2 separate regions of the Homo sapiens genome follow, and region 2 is linked to region 1. Evidence: fine-mapped expression QTL. A gene starts in region 1. The other region holds a variant in brackets. All regions are shown on one strand. Distances are from middle to middle.

Region 1 (8,763 bases):
GAGGTGAGCCACCGTACCCGGCCTGTTTTTCTTTTTAGAGATGAGGTCTTGCGTGTTGCCCAGCTGGAGTGCAGTAGCTATTCATAGGCGAGATCTTTGTACACTAGTCTTGGACTCCTGGGCTCAAGCGATCCTCCTGCCTCAGCCTCCCAAGTAACTGGGACCACAGGTGTGTGCCATTGTGCTGGGCTTTCCCTCATGATCTTCCCCATGGGCAGGTGGCAGCATGTGACTTCATCATGGCGCTGAGGAACTGAGAGGAGGCAAAGGCCAGGACAGGGCCCGCTTTTCTAGTGCACTGAATTCCAGAGTGTGGACTGAGGTAGCACCACCACTTATCAGCCGTCCCTCTCTCAGCCTGTTTGCACAGGGTCTGGCGACCTTCCAGGAAGCCCAACAGTTTGAAACACAGACCTCTTCCATTTCCAAAAAAGGGTGTGTTGGTGGCCACTCCAAGTCAATCGTGACCCAGTAGGACAGCTCTGTGGCCTAAGGTAAGCTATTCCTAATCAATTTGGCTCATACAGAGGTGCACTCAATGAATGAAATGCCGGAACCTCAGAAGGAAGAGGGAGAAAGCCTACTTCCTCAACACTGGGATCTGTAAAGGGTCATCTCACCCAGCAATAAATAAAGGGCAACAGAAGGGAAAAAGCAGTTTGGCTCAGGAGAAATAAAGTCCCATTCAAGCCCAAAGACACCACCACAATTACCTAGACCTGTGCGCCTTTGGTTCCTGTCTTGTGGCCTCTGTCTCCCCATTTAGGAACCACGCCTGTGGCTCACTCGGCCTCGTGCTATACCAGTAACCCCCTCCCCACCCCACTGAGCACAGCCTGGGCCAGGCTGGGCCCCTTTACCCTATTCTCCCATCCTAGGTCCAAACTTCTAGGGAGTTTTGTTTCAGTTTGTGAAAAAGAAAAAGGATTAAGGCTGGGCATGTCTGAGCCATCCTCCACAACCAGGAATTATGGAATAGCCCCTAGAAGGCAGGGGCTAAGGTCATGGCCGAGTTCAGCCTCCACTTGCCAGGTAGCAGCAGAGAAAGAAAAGACTCAAGCCAATCTGAGTGGGTGGGGGGAAAATGTGACCATGGGAACCTTTTGGGGGTCCTTCAAAAAGCCTCCCACACATTTTCCTTTCCATGAAGAGCACAGGCTCAGTTTCAGGGCAGGCAGGGAGTGGGGTCCCTCAGGCATTAGCTCTGGCCTACAAAACCCTGAGGCATAAAGGGATGACATTACGGAGTAGGCCTTGTGCTGAGTCAGGGGAGAGGCTTAGGATTGGATGATGGTTAGTAAACCTTATAGAATACTTTGCTTAGAGTTTCATGGAATGTCCCAGAAGTTTACCTTAGTCTGGACCCACCCCCAGTCTGAACCTTCTGGAATTTTCTATGTACCCCAGATTCGGGGGCTCACAGGGAACGTTCCTGGCTGGGATCTTGACTGAGAAAACAAACTTCAGAGGTCTATCTCAAGGAGCCCATGCTATTAGACCACTAGTGCTTTACAAACCCACATCGAAAGGAGGCCACCTGTTTCACTAGAACAAAAAGCCCTTGCCCCACTGTTTCTGTCGTGCCTGCTTTACTGGTTGAGAAGCACTAGTTTCAGAACATTTTGCTAAACTCCACTTCGTGCAGTTTGTTTTTCCAGAAAAAAGAAACTCCACTTGCTGCAGTTTTGTTTTTCCAGAAAAAAGTCTCTGTCCTGTTTTCTAAATATGAAACATAGTAACAATAAATGTTCTTTTAAAAAGTACATATCCCCTTCCCCCAAGTCCAGGCTCACTGAGCCAAACAGGTCTGAACCAGATTGGGCTCAAATCTTTTTTTTCTTTTTCTTTTTTTTTTTTTTTGAGATAGGGTCTAGCTTTGTAGCCCAGGCTGGAATGCAGTGGCAGGATCGCAGCTCACTGCAACCACGACCTCTCAGGCTCAAGCGATTCTCCCACCTTAGCCTCCTGAGTAGCTGGGACTACAGGCACTTGCCACACCCGGCTAATTTTTGTGATTTTTGTAGAGATGGGGTTTTGCCGTGTTGCCCAGGCTGGTCTCCAACTCCTGAGGTCAAGTGATCCACCCGCCTTGGGTGGATCCCAAAGTGTTGTGCCAGGCCCCAGATCTTCATTACTGCATCATATGATCACTGCAAAGCCTGGAGTAGGGGCATACCCCCAACCTCCGAGGCAAGAGACAATCAATGGTTTCCCTTTTTTTTTTTCCTTTTCAGGCTAGATTGGCACAATGATGGAATGGTTTTCAAGAGGCCAAGTAGGACCAGCTGTGGGTTTATCCCATTTTACCTAAGGATTTTACACAATACATTGAGTGCAGGAATGGCACGCAATGATTGCACTCAGTAATATACCAAACCACTCCTGGCTTTGTTTAGACCCTAGACTTGGGCCCTCATCCTTCTCGTAGACCTCTTGCGAGGATTTTCCCCTTTTACAGATTCACACTCAGTCCCGAACAGAAACACTTGAGCACCTACAATCTCACAGCCAACTCCCTGCCAACGTCCAGTGACTCACAGTTAAGAGAGCTTCAGCAGCAGCTCTGACCAAAGTGATGACCAACTACTTAACATGAATTAGAAACAGAGCAGAAAAAACACGCCTTTAGCCTGCTCTGCGTAAAGAACCAAGTCTCCACCATGAACACCAAGCCACCAACTCCCCGTCCCTCAGTAGTCCTGTGTACTCCCAAAGCCCCAAAATTTACCCCAGCCTCAAGCAGCCTTGTTTAAAAAATTAAGGAAGGGCCTGTGATAAGCACTGCAAGTTAAACAGAAACAGGGGACTTAAGTGCAGAGTTTGTCACTCTATTTCTGGGAGGGGATGGGCTGCACAGTGTGCAATGGGGCTGGCTGGTAAAGGGAGGACCAGGTGACAGCCAGCCACACTGTCTCAAGGATGAACCTGGCCCTGCTAGCATTATGCTGTAATCCCTGTGGATTAGAACTATGGATAATAGGGCCGGGAGCAGTGGCTCATGCCTGCAATCCCAGCACTTTGGGAGGCTGGACGGGCAGACAGCCTGAGGTCGGCAGTTCGAGACCTCAGTCTGGCCAGCATGGTGAAACCCCGTATCTACTAAAAATACAAAACACTAGCCAGGTGTGGTGGGAGCCTGTAATCCCAGTTACACAGGAGGCTGAGGCAGGAGAATCGCTTGAACCCGGGAGGTGGAGGTTGCAGTGAGCTAAGATCGCACCACTGCACTCCAGCCTGGGCAACAGAGCGCAAGACTCCATCTCAAAAACAAAACAAAACAAAAAACCCCCCAAAAACTATGGATAATAAAGCATGACAGACCTCAAGATGCCAAATGATTTTCTCCTCTGCTGTCATGCCTACAGAGTAACTTCTCCAAGGTCACACATTAAATATGGGCACAGGAACACTCATTCCTTATGCTCAATGACTTTTTCTCACTCCTACATGCTATCAACATAAGGAGGAGTGCCCCAGGGGGCTGACCTTAGCGGGAGGAACGACAGGCTCTCCACCGATCCCATTCTTACCCTGGACCAGGTCTCACCTGCGGCTTGGGGAAGTCACAGAAAGACAAGTTTCGTACAACCCCAGACCTTTTCTTTTGGTAGTCAACAATTGGTCACATTGCACATTTCAAGGTTACAGAGGCCCACCATACACATGCGGGGCAGGAGGAGATAAATCTTGCTTGGGGCTAAACAATAAAGCTACAGCGAGTGTTCCAGAAGTTGACCACATCTGGAAGCAAGAAGACAGACTCTGGAAGAAGCACCCTAGAGACTCCAGGAACCCCCTTCACTCCTGGGCTTTCGGGACTCTACAGCGTGGGGCCTCTTTCTCAGACATCGAAAGGCCTCCTTTTCTGGACCACAGTGGAGCGATGTGCAGGTCATCGGCTAAGCTGGGCGGGTCGGGGAGGGCAGGGGGAGTACAGTTCCTTCGGATCCCAGCAAAGGTAGACTATCAATGGCCAAGGGTTCAGAGGCAGGAAAAAAGGCCGTTTCTGGGGGGTTGGCTGGGGACACTCCCCTTCCCTTCTCTCTCCGATTAAATATAAAAGCCGATGATGATGAAGATTGAAAAGATGAGGAAAATGGCAGCCGTGTCTCGGGTATCCTCCCAGCGGAGGCCTTTCATGGACCGATACTCCTGCCGTTTGCGAAGGGCCTCCCGCCGGGCCCTCAGGCGCCGTTCCCGCTCCAGTTGTTCCCCGTAGTGGGCCTGGTAGAAGGCGTCAAAGTTGAACATCGTGCGGTTGGCGCCGGGGGAGGCCCGAGAACCGTCGTGGGTCCGAGAGGTGGGCGGCGGGGTACGCGGCGAGCCGGGGTCGGGTGCGGGCGTCCTGGAGGGCCGGACGCCAGGTCCGCGCAGGTCCTCGTCGCTGAGTAGGCCGCGATCATACTTGCGACGGAGGGTGGCACTGCCCAGCACCACGTAGGCCTGGGAGATGCGCGTGAAGCGCTCGGCGGCCTCCGCGCTCCCGGAGTTGCGGTCCGGGTGGTAGAGAAAGCACTGACGGTAGTAAGCCGCCTTGATTTGGGCCTGCGTGGCTGTGGAGGGGACGCCGAGCAGATCATACAGCGCCGTGCGCGAATACGAGCAGTCGCCCTGGGAATAAGTCCTCGCTCCTAGGCCCAGGCTGGGTGCAGAATTTTGTGGAAAGCCACGGGCCTGCAGCAACCTCCAAGGTAACAGCCGCTGCCACCATCGCCAGCGCATGGCTGCCATGTTGAATTGATTCGGCAGGCGGTGCAAGAGAAACCGGCCAATGAGAGGAGTCGGTTGGTCGCCCTGTGGCCAGTCACGTAAAGGGGGGGGCGGGGCGGTCGTGGGGGTGGAACATGCGTATTACTAAGCGGTCGCCGGGCTGATGACATAAAAACCGGGTGCCGGCAGGCGCCAGTCGCAGGTGTGCTGCTGAGGCGTGAGAATGGCGTCCCGCGGCCGGCGTCCGGAGCATGGCGGACCCCCAGAGCTGGTAAGTCCCGGGGCCCGCGGACACCCCTCTCCCCACTTCTGCGGCCACCGCGTCTGAATTATTCCTCTACATGCCATTTTCTCTTTTTCGCAGTTTTATGACGAGACAGAAGCCCGGAAATACGTTCGCAAGTGAGGGGAGCCTGAATACTGCGGGGCGTCCGGGGGTCGGGAAGCGGCAAGTTGCCCCTGTTGCTGGCGTTGCCCGGAAAGGCCGTAGAATTTGGGGGTGCGGGAAGGGAAGGACCCGGGTGGGTGCCGATTTCTGTCTCTGGTAAATCAACTTTAAGTTGCCGACCTCTCTGGGCCTCGGTACCTCAGCGTTGAGGTAGGGGTGATCGCGCTTGCTTTCCGTGGGTGGTTTTCAAAGTCGAATGTGACAATTTGTCCTAAACATGTGGTAAAAGAGGCGCTGGGCGGTGGGTACGGGCGAGGGGTCAGTCCTGGTGGGGGGAAGGAAGTAATGGCCGTAGGATGCTTATCGTGGCGCCTTGTTGCCAATAAATCTCCAAGACAGCAGTTGGTGTATTATTGTCTGAATTTCATAGAGGGTAGTTTGTATAACTACTGAGTTGTAGCCAGGTGGGAGTGGCTCACGCGTGTAATCTCAGCAATCGCAGCACTTTGGGAGGCTGAGGCGGGAGGATCGCTTGAGCTCAGGGGTTCGAGACCAGCCTGGGCAACGTAGCGAGCCCCCGTCTCCGCAAGTAATAAAAAAATTAGCCGGGTGTGGTGGCTCCCCTCTGCCTCTCCAGTAGTTGGGACCACAGGCGCGCGCCACTACGCCTGGCTTTTTTTTGTAAATTTTTGTTGCGATGGGGTCTCGCTGTGTTGCCCAAGGTGGCCCAAGCCCAGGGCTCAAGCGATCCTCCCGCCTTCGTCTCCCGAACTGTTGGGATTGCAGGCGTGAGCCAGCGCACCTCGAGTCGTTAAAAAAAAAAAAAAGGGGGGGGGATGGGGGCGGGGGGAAGCTGGCGCGGTGTCTCACGCCTGTAATCGCAACACTTTGGGAGGCTGAGGCAGACGGATCACCTGAGGTCAGGAGTTCGAGACCAGCCTGGCCAACATGGCGAAACTCCAGCTCTACTAAAAATGGAAAAAATTAGCCGGGCGCGATGGCGGGTTTCTGTAACCCCAGCTACTCGGGAGGCTGAGGCAGGAGAATAGCTTGAACCCGGGAGGGGGAGGTTGCAGTGAGCCGACATCACGGCACTGCACTCCAGCCTGGGCGACAGAGCAAGACTTTGTTTCAAAAAAAAAAAAAAAAAAAAAAAAAAAAAAAAAAAAGATACTTTGTGGTTTTTCCGTGCTCTCTCACTGAGAGACTAGCCCTATTTCAGTAAATGGTTACTGGCCGGGCGCTATGGCTCATACCAGTAATCCCAGCCCTGTGGGAGGCGGAGGTGGACGGATCACCTGAGGTCAGGAATTCCGAGACCAACCTGGCCAGCATGGTGAAATCCCGTCTCTACTGAAAATACAGATATTAGCCGGGCCTACGGGAGGCTGAGGCAGGAGAATCACTTGAACCTGAGAGGCAGAGGTTGCAGTGAGCTGCGATCGCACCACTGCACTCCAGCCTTGGCGACAGAGTGAGACCCTGACTCAATAAATAAATAAATAGCTATTGGATACTGTTTCTTTTTTTTAGGGACAGGGTCTCTCTATTGCCCAGGCTGGAGTGCCATGGCATGATCCCTGCCGACTGCAGCCTCAAGCCATCCTCCCCAGCAGCCGGAACTAGAGGCACTCGCCACCACACCGGCTGAAATAGCTTGATAATTTTTTGTGCGTGTGAGACAGGCTCTCATTCTATCGCCCAGGCCGAAGTGCTGCAGTGGCTGCAACCTCGCCTCCCGGGTAGTTGGAACTACAGGCGCGCCTCCTCGCGCCCGACTAGTTTGTGTAATTTTTTTGTGGAGAGGGAGTTTTGCTATGTTGCCCAGGGATCTGGTAAGTTGCTCACGGGATCCACCCGCCTTGGCCTCCCAAAGTACTGGGATTATAGGCGTGAGCCACCAGGCCCGGTCCTTGCTGATGACTTTTTATGTCGATTATATGTTGAAGTGATATTTTGAACATATTGAGTTAATGGAAATACGTTATTAAATATATGGGGTTAAAAATATGACTCCAGAGGCCGGGCGCGGTGGCTCACGCCTGTAATCCCAGCACTTTGGGAGGCCGAGGCTGGCGGATCACAAGGTCAGGAGATAGAGAAATCCTGGCTAACATGGTGAAACCCCGTCTCTACTGAAAATGCAAAAAAAAAAATTAGCCGGGCGTGGCGGCGGGCGCCTGTAGTCCCAGCTGCTGGGGAAGCTGAGGCAGGAGAATGGCATTAACCCGGGAGGCGGAGCTTGCAGTGAGCCGAGATCGCGCCACTGCACTCCAGCCTGGGCGACAACAGAGCAAGACTCCGTCTCAAAAAAAAAAAAAAATATGACTCCAGTTTCTTTTACCTGTTTCTTTAAGTTTCTTCTTGACTGGCTATTGGGAAGCCATGCGTGGCTCACATTCTGTTTCTCACAGACAGTGCTGCTGTAGGTTTTTGTGCATTGTTGATCCTTCTAGATGAGAGAAACTATGGAGAATAATTTTTGGAGAAAATGTTTTCAACAAGTGCTAGAGCAGCCCAGCCTAATAGAGTTGCAGATCCCAGTGGTTGTTTATTACTAGCTAAGTGATTTGCTTTTACACATCTGCTTGGCAGCTGGTGCAATGATAAGTTGTTACCACAAAATAACATGGTCCTGAATTACATGGAATTTTTGGGGTCACTTTCGAATGGTTGAATTTGTTGATCCCAACTTAGAAGGGGTCAGAAAAGAGTACCTCGGGATGATTGATCCGTTTTTTGTTTGTTTTTAACTTGGCTTTTTTTTGTTTTTTGTTTTTTGGTCTGGGGGAAGTATTCACCCAGAACTCCTTTACCATGTCCACTTGTGTTTCTGCCTTACCAGCTCACGGATGATTGATATCCAGACCAGGATGGCTGGGCGAGCATTGGAGCTTCTTTATCTGCCAGAGAATAAGCCCTGTTACCTGCTGGATATTGGGTGAGATTCTGGGGCCTGGTTCAGATTGTCTAAGGTGGTGAAGTGTCTTTGTAAACTGACCCTGAGTGTCTGGTCATGTCTTCCAGCTGTGGCACTGGGCTGAGTGGAAGTTATCTGTCAGATGAAGGGCACTATTGGGTGGGCCTGGATATCAGCCCTGCCATGCTGGGTAAGTATGTCCTGTCTGGCACCAGGGTGGATTACCCTGATGGGTGTGGAGAAGCCACAGGTATTTCTCTTTCTCTGACTGCCTTTTCTCTAATGTAGATGAGGCTGTGGACCGAGAGATAGAGGGAGACCTGCTGCTGGGGGATATGGGCCAGGGCATCCCATTCAAGCCAGGCACATTTGATGGTTGCATCAGGTGAGGGTCTTTAATTCCTGCTTTTATTTATTTAGAGACAGGGTCTCACTCTATCACTTAGGCTCTAGTGCAGTGTCTGTGATTATGGCTCACACTGCAGCCTCCACCTCCTGGGTTCAGGTGATCTGCCCACCTCAGTCTCCTGAGTAGCTGGGACTACAGGCCCACACCACCGTACCTAGCTAATTTTTTGTTTTTTTGAGATGGAGTCTTGCTCTGTCACCAGGCTGGAGTGCAGTGGTGTGATCTTGGCTCACTGCAGCCTTCGCCTCCCAGGCTCAAGCGATTCTCCTGCCTCAGCCTCCCAAGTAGCTGAGATTACAGGAGCACGCCACCACACCCAACTAATTTTTGTATTTT
Region 2 (8,939 bases), 31 kb after region 1:
ACTAAACCCCAGTCCCGAGGTGGCACGGATCAGATCTCTTAGGAATCTCCTGTGAGTCTTTTTTTAAAACAGTTTTTAAATTTAATTTTTATTTTTGTAGAGACGGGGGTCTCACTGTGTTACCCAGGCTGGTCTTGAACTCCTGGCCTCAAGCGATCCTCCTGCCTCAGCCTTCCAAAGCACTGGGATTGTAGGTGTGAGCCACTGCACTTGGCCTCCCTGTCGGTCTTGCCATTGGACCTCGGTCTGCCTCCTTCCAGTCCCCAGACCTGGGCCCAGCAGGCACAAGGGGACAGTCATGTTGCCACTTGGCTTGGGTCCTGCCTTAGGCCTCAGCCACAGTTACAAGCCCCACTCCACTGTCCCAGGACCAGCTGTACAAAAGCCACCCCCATCGTGGGGCAGGGGTAATCATACTTCTGACTTCCCAGCATGCTGCGCACAATTATTACTGTCTGCCTCATACCGCCAGTTGGCCAGGGTCAGCCCACGCTGCTGGCAAGGCCAGGTCTCTCTCTGCAGCCAAGGCAAGGATATCCGGGGTGGCCACCCTGGGGCAGGGACTGAGGTCTCTCAGCCTGGGGCTCAGGGCTTGTTCCCACCTCTTTTATTTTTATTTTTTTATTTTTTGAGAGAGTCTCGCACTGTCACCTAGGCTGGAGTGCAGTGGTGTGATCTTGGCTCACTGCAACCTCCACCTCCTGGGTTCAAGCAATTCTCCTGCCTCAGCCTCCCGAGTAGCTGGGATTACAGGTGCATGCCACCATGCCCAGCTAATTTTTGTATTTTTAGTAGAGACAGGTTTCACTATGTTGGCCAGGCCGGTCTCGAACTCCTGACCTCAGGTGATCCACCCGCCTCGGCCTCCCAAAGTACTGGGATTACAGGCGTGAACCACCACATCTGATCTTGTTCCCACCTCATTTCTGAGTGCCTCACGGGAGTGGCCACTGACTAGCTCAGCACTGACCCCACCTCGGTGCTCTCGCGTCAGGACGGAGGCAGGTGGAGGTTGAGGGGCTGAGAGAACTGATGGGACTCATCAGGCTGGGCCTTAACCCCTCTGGCTCTATTTACTCTTCTGTGAAATGGGGACAGTGACACCTGGCTGCATGGAGGGAGGGCTGAGAAAAAGTGGGGAAGCAGGGCAGGTATGTTTGTTTGATTGATGGATGGACTGATTGATTGATTGAGACAGGGTCTCGCTCTGTCACCCAGGCTGGAGTGCAGTGGCACAATCATAACTCCCTGTAGCCTCAACCTCCCGGGCTCAAGCCATCCTTTCACTTCAGCCTCCCAAGCAGCTGGGACTACAGATGCATCAGATGCATGCCACCACACCCAGCTACTTTTTGATTTTTTTTTTTTTTTTGTAGCGACAGGGTCAAACTATGTTGCCCAGTCTGGTCTCAAACTCTTGGGCTCAAGTGATCTTCCCACCTTGGCTTCCCAAAGTGCTGGGAGTATAGGTGTGAGCCGCCACCATGCCCGGCCTGAGCATGTTCTGTGAGGGGCTCACATCACCCCATCAAAGTGGGGACTCATGGGGAGAGGGGGTAGTTAGGAGCTTTGATAGAGGCGGCTCAGAGGGGCCTCCTCTCTTTAAGATATCGTACCACCTCCCCAGCAGCTAAAATAAATCCTCGTTCCCACTCCCCACCGAGTGCCTGGGGCTGTCACCAGGTGGTACCCCCTCCCCCACCAAGCTCCCTACAGACACAGAAAATCCAGGAGCCGTTTTCACGCTTTTAGACCGTGACAGGCCTAGGAGTTGAGTCAGAGGAGCCCTCCCTAGGGAAACTGAGGCAGAGCACTGCCAGGAGGAGCCCAGTTCCTCCTCCTGGGCAGGCTGCCAGGTTGGGAAGTGGCCCCAGGAGCTCCTGCCATTCAGTGTCCTGCCCTCTCTGCCCTGGTGCTCAGAGGATCAGGGTAGATGACAAAGGGTGGATGGAGAATTATCCAGCTCCTTTTCCGTGGCCAGAGACGAGCGTCACTGCCAGCCCCACCGAACCCCTGTCCTGCCCTCAGAGACCCCTGGCACCTGTCTGGTGCCTCTCTTGACCTCAGCTTGCCCATCTGTGTAATGAGGGCAGATCTTCTCCAGGCATCCGGCCAGCTCTGACCTGCTACCTTCCCAGAAGGCTGAAGGCTGGACCAGGAAGCTTCTCTAACAGAAGGGCTGGGAGGAGAGATGCCCGCATCCTCCTCTGGACCCTCCGTCTATGAGGGTAGGGCTGGGGAAAGGGAGATCAGGGCCAGGGTAGATGGGGGCACGCAGGTCAAGTCTACCCTGGAGGTGGCATTGAGATTGGCCCCAAAGCCAGTCGGGGGGCTGAGGGCCTGACCTCTGAGGCATGGTCAAACCAGCCACAGCTCCAAGCAAAACCTAGAGGGGATGGGCGAAGTGGGCCTTTCCTCCCCACGTCCTTCTACTTCTTCGTTCTTGGGAATTTTCACCCCCAGCTCTGCTCTTTATCCTGCTGCCCTCCCCTGGGATCAGACCCCACTCCCCCACACCTACAACTGGTTCCTGGCCCTACAATCCACCCTCTGCCCCCAACTTCCCCCAGGCACATCCCTTTGCCCGGGATGCTGATTCCATGAAGGTGACATTCCCTTCTTCCTCGATGCCACCTCCTTCCAGAAGCCTCCCTGCCCCCCCAAATCAGTATCTCGCACCTTGTTCTTCCACACGCCATTCACATTCCTATTGGAGCCATGGCTGAAAACTCTCAGGCCCTAAGGGACCTGAAAAGTCCCCCTGGCTTCAGCTGCCAGCCTCAGCTTGCAAACCTCCTGTGACAGTGAGCTCACTAGCTTCCCCAGACAGCTCTGCCCATCTCGGGCAGCCCCAACTGTTAGAGTCCTTCTCTTCCCTGTGGTTTGGTTCCAGGCCATAAAGAACCTGTGGGTGCCCTCTCCCTGGGGTACCCCTGCTATAGATTTGAAGGCGGCATCCACATCCTCCCTAGATTTTTCTTTTTAAGTATTCCTTCCCTTTCAGATCCTTCCCAGGGACCCCAAATTACAGCCCCTGCCCAAGAGTTGTTCCACTGTGCCTCTGTCTCCTGTCATACAGCACACAAACTGAATCTGCTGCTGACTGTGGTCTGGGCAATGCCAAAGATCTGGCCCATCCCCTCCCTCTTTCTATATGATCTACCTCTAGTAATACAGCCAGGAATCAGATAAGTGATCATGTAGCATTTCCTGTCAAGAAAAGCCCCAAGCCCTTCCCAACCACTGTCTGTGGAGTGGATTTGGGGTTCGAGTGAAGGACCTTCTTCCTGTTTCATTTCTTCATTTGTTCTGATGCTTATTTCAGTTTGTGGGATTCTGATGGCTCCTGGCTCTGTCGCCCCTGCACCCTCATCCACATCCAAGCTAGAGCCTGGTGGCAGCATTCTAGAGATGTCCTCCAGATTCACTCAGATAAGGAATCAGTTCTCATTGGACACGGAATAAACTGATAAGGACGCGGGATGGCAGAGCCCCACTGCCACCCTCACCTCCTCTGTTTCCCAGCCCAGACACACTCTTGACCAAAATGTAACTAGGTGATGTGGCTACCCTGGCATGCTGTCTTCCTGGTGTCTTGGGCTGGCCAGGGCGGGCACTGTATACATAAAGTGGCCAAGCATGATGGCTCACGCCGGTAATCTCAGCACTTTGGGAGGCCAAGGTGGGAGGATTACTTGAGTCCAGGAGTTTGAGACCAGCCAGGGCAACATAGCAAGACCCCATCTCTATCAAAAGCTACAAAAATTAGCTGGGCGTGGTGCCATGCATCTGTAATTGCAGCTACTCAGGAGGCTGAGGTGGGAGGATTGCTTGAGCCCTGGAGGTCGAGGCTGCAGTGAGCTATGATCGTGCCATTGCACTCCAGCTTAGGTGACAGAGCAAGATCCTGTCTCAAAAAAACAAAAGTGGACACACAGATTTCTGTGGAATAATTAGGGCCCAGCTCCCTTGGGGATCTACCAATGCTTTCTGAGTGGCATTCACAGCTCTGGAGAGGGGGCTGGATTGGAGTTGGGGACTTGGAACCCTTCGCTGTGCAGGTGGCAGCTGGAACTGTGGGGCACAAACTCAAAGGCCCAAGTGTCTTACGGACGGATGTGCCCAGATATCATACGGGCACCTTGCCTGCCTCCTGGCCAAAACCAGGCTCCACCTGTTTTGCCAGAGCCCCATCCTCTGAACTGCCTAGCGCAGAACCCCAAGCCAGAAACCTAGGACATCTGCCATCTTCCTCCTCTTCTCCCATCCAACCAACATCCA[A/G]TTTGTCCTGGCACTTTTTTTTTTTTTTTTGAGGCAGAGTCTCGCTCTGTTGCCCAGGCTGGAGCGCAGTGGCGCAATCTCGGCTCACCACAACCTCCGCCTCCCAGGTTCAAGCGATTCTCCTGCCTCAGCCTCCCGAGTAGCTGGGATTACAGGCACCCGCACCACACCCGGCTAGTTTTTGTATTTTTAGTAGAGACGGGGTTTCACCATGTTGGCCAGGCTGGTCTTGAATTCCTGACCTCAGGTGATCCACCCGCCTCGGTCTCCCAAAGTGCTAGGATTACAGGCGTAAGCCACCGCGCCCAGCTCTTTTTTTTTTGAAACAGAATCTCGCTTTGTTGTCCAGACTGGAGTGCAGTGGCAAGATCATAGCTCACTGCAGCCTTGATCTCCCAGGCTCAAGCAATCCTCCAGCCTCAGCCTCCAGAGTAGCTGGGACTACAGGTGCCTGCCACCACACCTGGCTAATTTTAAATTTGTGTAGAGATGGTGGTCTCACTATGTTGCTCAGGCTGGTCTCAAACTCCTGAGCTCAAGCAGTCTTCCCGCCTCAGCCTCCCAAGTAGTTGGTACTGCAGGTGTGAGCCCCCAAGCCCAGCTAACATCCTGGTGTTTTTTTGTTCTGCATTCAGCAGTTCTCAAAGCTGGGCGAGCACCAGAATCCTTTGGGGGGGTTAAAAAAAAAAAACAAAAACGGCTTCCAGGGATCCACCCCAAAGAGACTGAATCAGAATTTATAGGGGTAGCCGGGTGCAGTGGCTCATGCCTTAATCCCAGCACTTCGGGAGGCCAAGGTGGGTGGATCACCTGAGGTTAGCAGTTCAAGAACAGCCTGGTCAACATGGCAAAACCCCATCTCTACTAAAAATACAAAAATTAGCCGGGTGTGATGGTGCATGCCTGTAATCCCAGCTACTCGGTAGGATGAGGCAGGAGAATCACTTGAACCTGGGAGGTGGAGGTTGCAGTGAGCCAAGATTATGCCACTGCACTCCAGCCTGGATGACAGAATGAGACTCCGTCTAAAAAAAAAAAAAAAATTGGCTGGGTGTGGTGGCTTACACCTGTAATCCCAGCACTTTGGGAGGCCGAGGCGGGCAGATCACGAGGTCAAGAGATCGAGGCCATCCTGCCCAACATGGTGAAACCCCGTTGCTACTAAAAATACAAAAATTAGCCGGGCATGGTGATGCACACCTGTAGTCTCAGCTACTCAGGAGGCTGAGGAAGGAGAATCACTTGAACCCAGGAGGTGGAGGCTGCAGTGAGCTGAGATGGCACCATTGCACTCCAGCCTGGAGACAGTGCGAGACTCCGTCTAAAAAAACAAAAAAAAAACCAACAAAAAACACCACCTCCAACCAGGAAGGCTGGGAGGGAGTGCTCCTTACCTCCCTAGCATGGAGACTGCTAGGAAGAACAGACCCTGCTGGAACCACGGGGAGCTGGATGCCCTGAGCTTCCCCTGGCAGAGGTGGGGCAGCCCTGGTGGTCTCTCCTAGCAGAGACTCCAGGATTCCAGGACACCTTCCTGGATGTAATAGTCTGACTCCTCCAAGAGGCGCAGAGGCCAGGCAGCCTCCAGGCGTGTCCCAGGGGAAGCCACCAGGCTGGCAAGGTTGATTCATCACTGCTGAGCACAGTGGCTGTTGTCTGCCTCGAGGGCTATTTTTTTCCCTTCTTCTTTTAAATGACTAATCAAAGTCAATATCACTAGTGCAGAGAGGCCCGGAGCTGAGTCAGGGGTGTGCGAGAGGCCAAGCTGGGTCTCCAGGAAAGACGGCTGTGCAATCTGAGCCTCCTCACCCTGTCTCCAGCCTCCAGCTGTGTGTACACCAGGTCCCCGCCCTGCAGAGCCTGCCCCTTCACAGGGCCCCAGAGTGGCTCAGGGAGGCAGCTTCAGGCCGTGGAAGGGGCCAGGCTCTGCCCCCACAGGCTGCATGACCTCAGATAAACACCTGGCCCTTTCTGGACCTGTTTTCTGATCTGTAAGATAGGAGGTTGAACTAGATGGTCCCGGGAGGCCGTTCCACCTGCACCCCAGATGAAAATGTACCCAAATGCATCGTTCATGCTGGGAAACCTCTGGAACGTAATGGGAGGAAGGATCGGGCGAGCCCTGTCCGGCTCCTGTTCTTACACTCTCGTGCCTGCCACTCTGCAAAGTAGGTAACACTGGCTCCATTCTGCAGATGAGGAAATGAGCAGAGGGAGATTAAGGATGAACCTGCCCGGTGTTGCCACCCAACCGCCAGACTCTTCCCAGCAACGAAAGAGAAGGGGAAACTGATGGGCAAAGCAGGGCCCTGGGCCTTCCCATCCAGGCCTGCCTGGGCTGCTCCAGTGAGTTGGGCCCTAGTCTAGACCTCAAGGCACTTCAGGGGGCCCCAGACACCAGCTGTCAGGACCACCTGCTATTCTCTCCTGGTTGAGCATTCCAATCTCTCTGCCTTCACTAAGCTGTCCCCTCCTTTGGATCACCTTCTCTCCTCCTATTCAAATCCAGCTCCTGCTCCTGTGCTATCCCAGGGTCTCTTCTTCCAGGAAGCCTTCCAGGATTGTGCTGCTCCAACTCTCCCTCCTTGCTACGTCTTCAGCCTCCTGCAACAGGTCCCATGTGTCTGTCCCACATGACCTGGCACATAGACAAATACATGTTCTGGGCCCAGGGAGAAAGGTCAGCTCTGCAAAGTCCCCAGGAAGAAAATCAGGGAGTCTCTGAGTTGAGGGGAGGAGGCAGCTACAGCCTGAGTGGGGCTCCTGGGGATGCTCTAACCTAAAAGTCTTTCCCTGGCTGTGTGACCCTGGCCCTGTCTTCGGTCTCTCTTTGTTACCTGTAACCTGCAAGTGGCCTTTCTGATCTCTGAGGGACTGCGACAGCATTGAGGCCCCCTGGCTAGTCCCCAGTGACCCCCTTCACTCCCCATCTGCAGAGGGAGAGTTGGGAGCTGGAGAAGGCTGGAGAAGGCTGGAGGGCTGGGCCGGGCCTGCAGAGTGAGGAAACGCGCCAGCTCCTTCCCCAAGTGTGACTTTTATAAATAAGCTCTCTTCGCCTCCTTCCAAATGTGGTGGTGTTGGGTGGGGGAGAAGGAGAAAGAAGAGGGAGGAGGAGGAGGAAGAGGGAGGGAGGGAGGGCTGGGAGCGGTGCACAGCCGCTGTCCCCAGCACCATCTCTGTTCAGCCCAGCCCAGCCCAGCCCGCCCCAGTCCAGCCCAGTCCAGCCCAGTCCAGCTCAGCCAGTGCTGGCCTCTTCCTTTCTGGGGATTCTGGGCTGAAAATTCTGACTCCTGGGGCTTCAGGCCTCCTACAAATGTGGAGCTGGAGTCAGGAGACCTGTAGCCCTGCTTCTCGTCCCGAGAAACTGAATTCTAGGCTTTCCCATCCCCACTTCACAGATGGGAACCCTAGGTCCAGAGGGAAAGCAGCCTGTGGGAACAGTGGCCCCACCAAGACTGACTGTCTCACCCCACCCCGGGTGGGCTCCTGCCTGCCAGCCGTCCACCTGTCTGCTAGAAAGCCCTCCCTGGGCAGGGCCACCCAGCAATGGGTACAGCCTCCCTGGGCTCTGAATGCCTTGTGTGGGGAGGGTGGGGGTGTCTGGAGCGGAAGCCTCAGACCATTCAAAGCAAAGCCTGGCTTCACCATCTAATCAGGGGGCGAGGAGGTAGTAACAGAGACAGACATCAGAGCAAAAAGATCTGGGTTCAAACGCTTCACAACCCCAGCTCCACTGGCTGTCCCCCAGTGTCAGCCAGGCCTGAGTCTGACTATCTTCAGGGATGAGGCAAAGCCCTTTTCTACCACCCCTCCCTCTAGCAGGCAAGCCGTGTTTCTTTTGTGCCTCAGTTTCCCCTTCAGCTAGGGGGATGAAGGCTGACATGCCAGAGGCTATTATCCTATGTAGGGGCCCATGGTTCCCCTGACCACTTGGTTCCCACACACACCCTCAGGTAACCTACCAGGCGCCTAAACATCAGCACATTACACCACACAGCCATCCGTCACCAGGAAAACACTCATTCTGACTCAACGGAGCTCAGGAAACTTGAGGGCAACCACAGGGGCCGCGGGGGAAGTGTTTAGAGCCCATATGCGACTTGAGGGACCATCTTCTTCCTTTGAAACCTCATGGGGTTTACACCAGGGGCTGGGCGCTCGGCCAGGAATAACAGGTCTGGAGGCAAAGTGGAGGCCGTGGTGCCAGAGCAAGTGGGGGACATGAAGGCAGGGGAGCCCAGGTCCCGGCTCCAGGATGCCCAGGAGGCAACCATGACATAATGGGGCAGACAGGCTCCAACTCAGGGAGCCTCTGGGTGGAGAAGACAAGCCGTGGGGTCAAATGCCCAAAGGACACTTGACATTTTCCATAGGAGGGGACCTTAGGGTTCTAGTTCCTAGCCCAGGGAGCGGGGTGGGGGGTGCTCCCAGGGATCAGCAGGCAGGGCTGCCAGCCAGGTGGCCAGCCAGGGGACCAGATGACCAGATGAGACTCAATCTAGTCTTGAGCCTTGATCCACCCCCCCTCCCCGACACACCCAGAGAGGCTTCATTTCCGTCGCTGTCCTCCACTCCCGGTCACCATCCTCCTGGGCTCCTCATCCCTAAGGGCAGAGGCCAGGGGAAGGGGACCCACGCAGGCTGCAGGGGTCTCTGGG

What was found.
Region 2: its variant is fine-mapped to the expression of DNAJC30 in whole blood (INTERVAL, PIP 0.96).

What each region holds. Positions count from the first base shown.
Region 1 is chr7:73,678,693-73,687,455 of GRCh38, forward strand. It overlaps DNAJC30 (DnaJ heat shock protein family (Hsp40) member C30), which reads right to left and starts at 4,761. Exons shown (of 1, transcript NM_032317.3): 1 at 2,226-4,761. The coding sequence starts at 4,731. The coding sequence ends at 4,051. BUD23 (BUD23 rRNA methyltransferase and ribosome maturation factor) reads left to right here and starts at 4,905. Exons shown (of 12, transcript NM_017528.5): 1 at 4,905-4,981; 2 at 5,075-5,112; 3 at 7,944-8,039; 4 at 8,126-8,208; 5 at 8,307-8,403. The coding sequence starts at 4,934. RefSeq lists enhancers at 4,183-4,272, 4,513-4,682, 5,613-6,462, 6,463-7,312.
Region 2 is chr7:73,709,816-73,718,754 of GRCh38, forward strand. All of the region lies in intron 1 of STX1A (syntaxin 1A), which reads right to left. It overlaps MIR4284 (microRNA 4284), which reads left to right and starts at 1,502; the gene lies at 1,502-1,582. RefSeq lists an enhancer at 5,632-6,163. The variant A/G (reference allele first, on the strand shown) is at 4,282.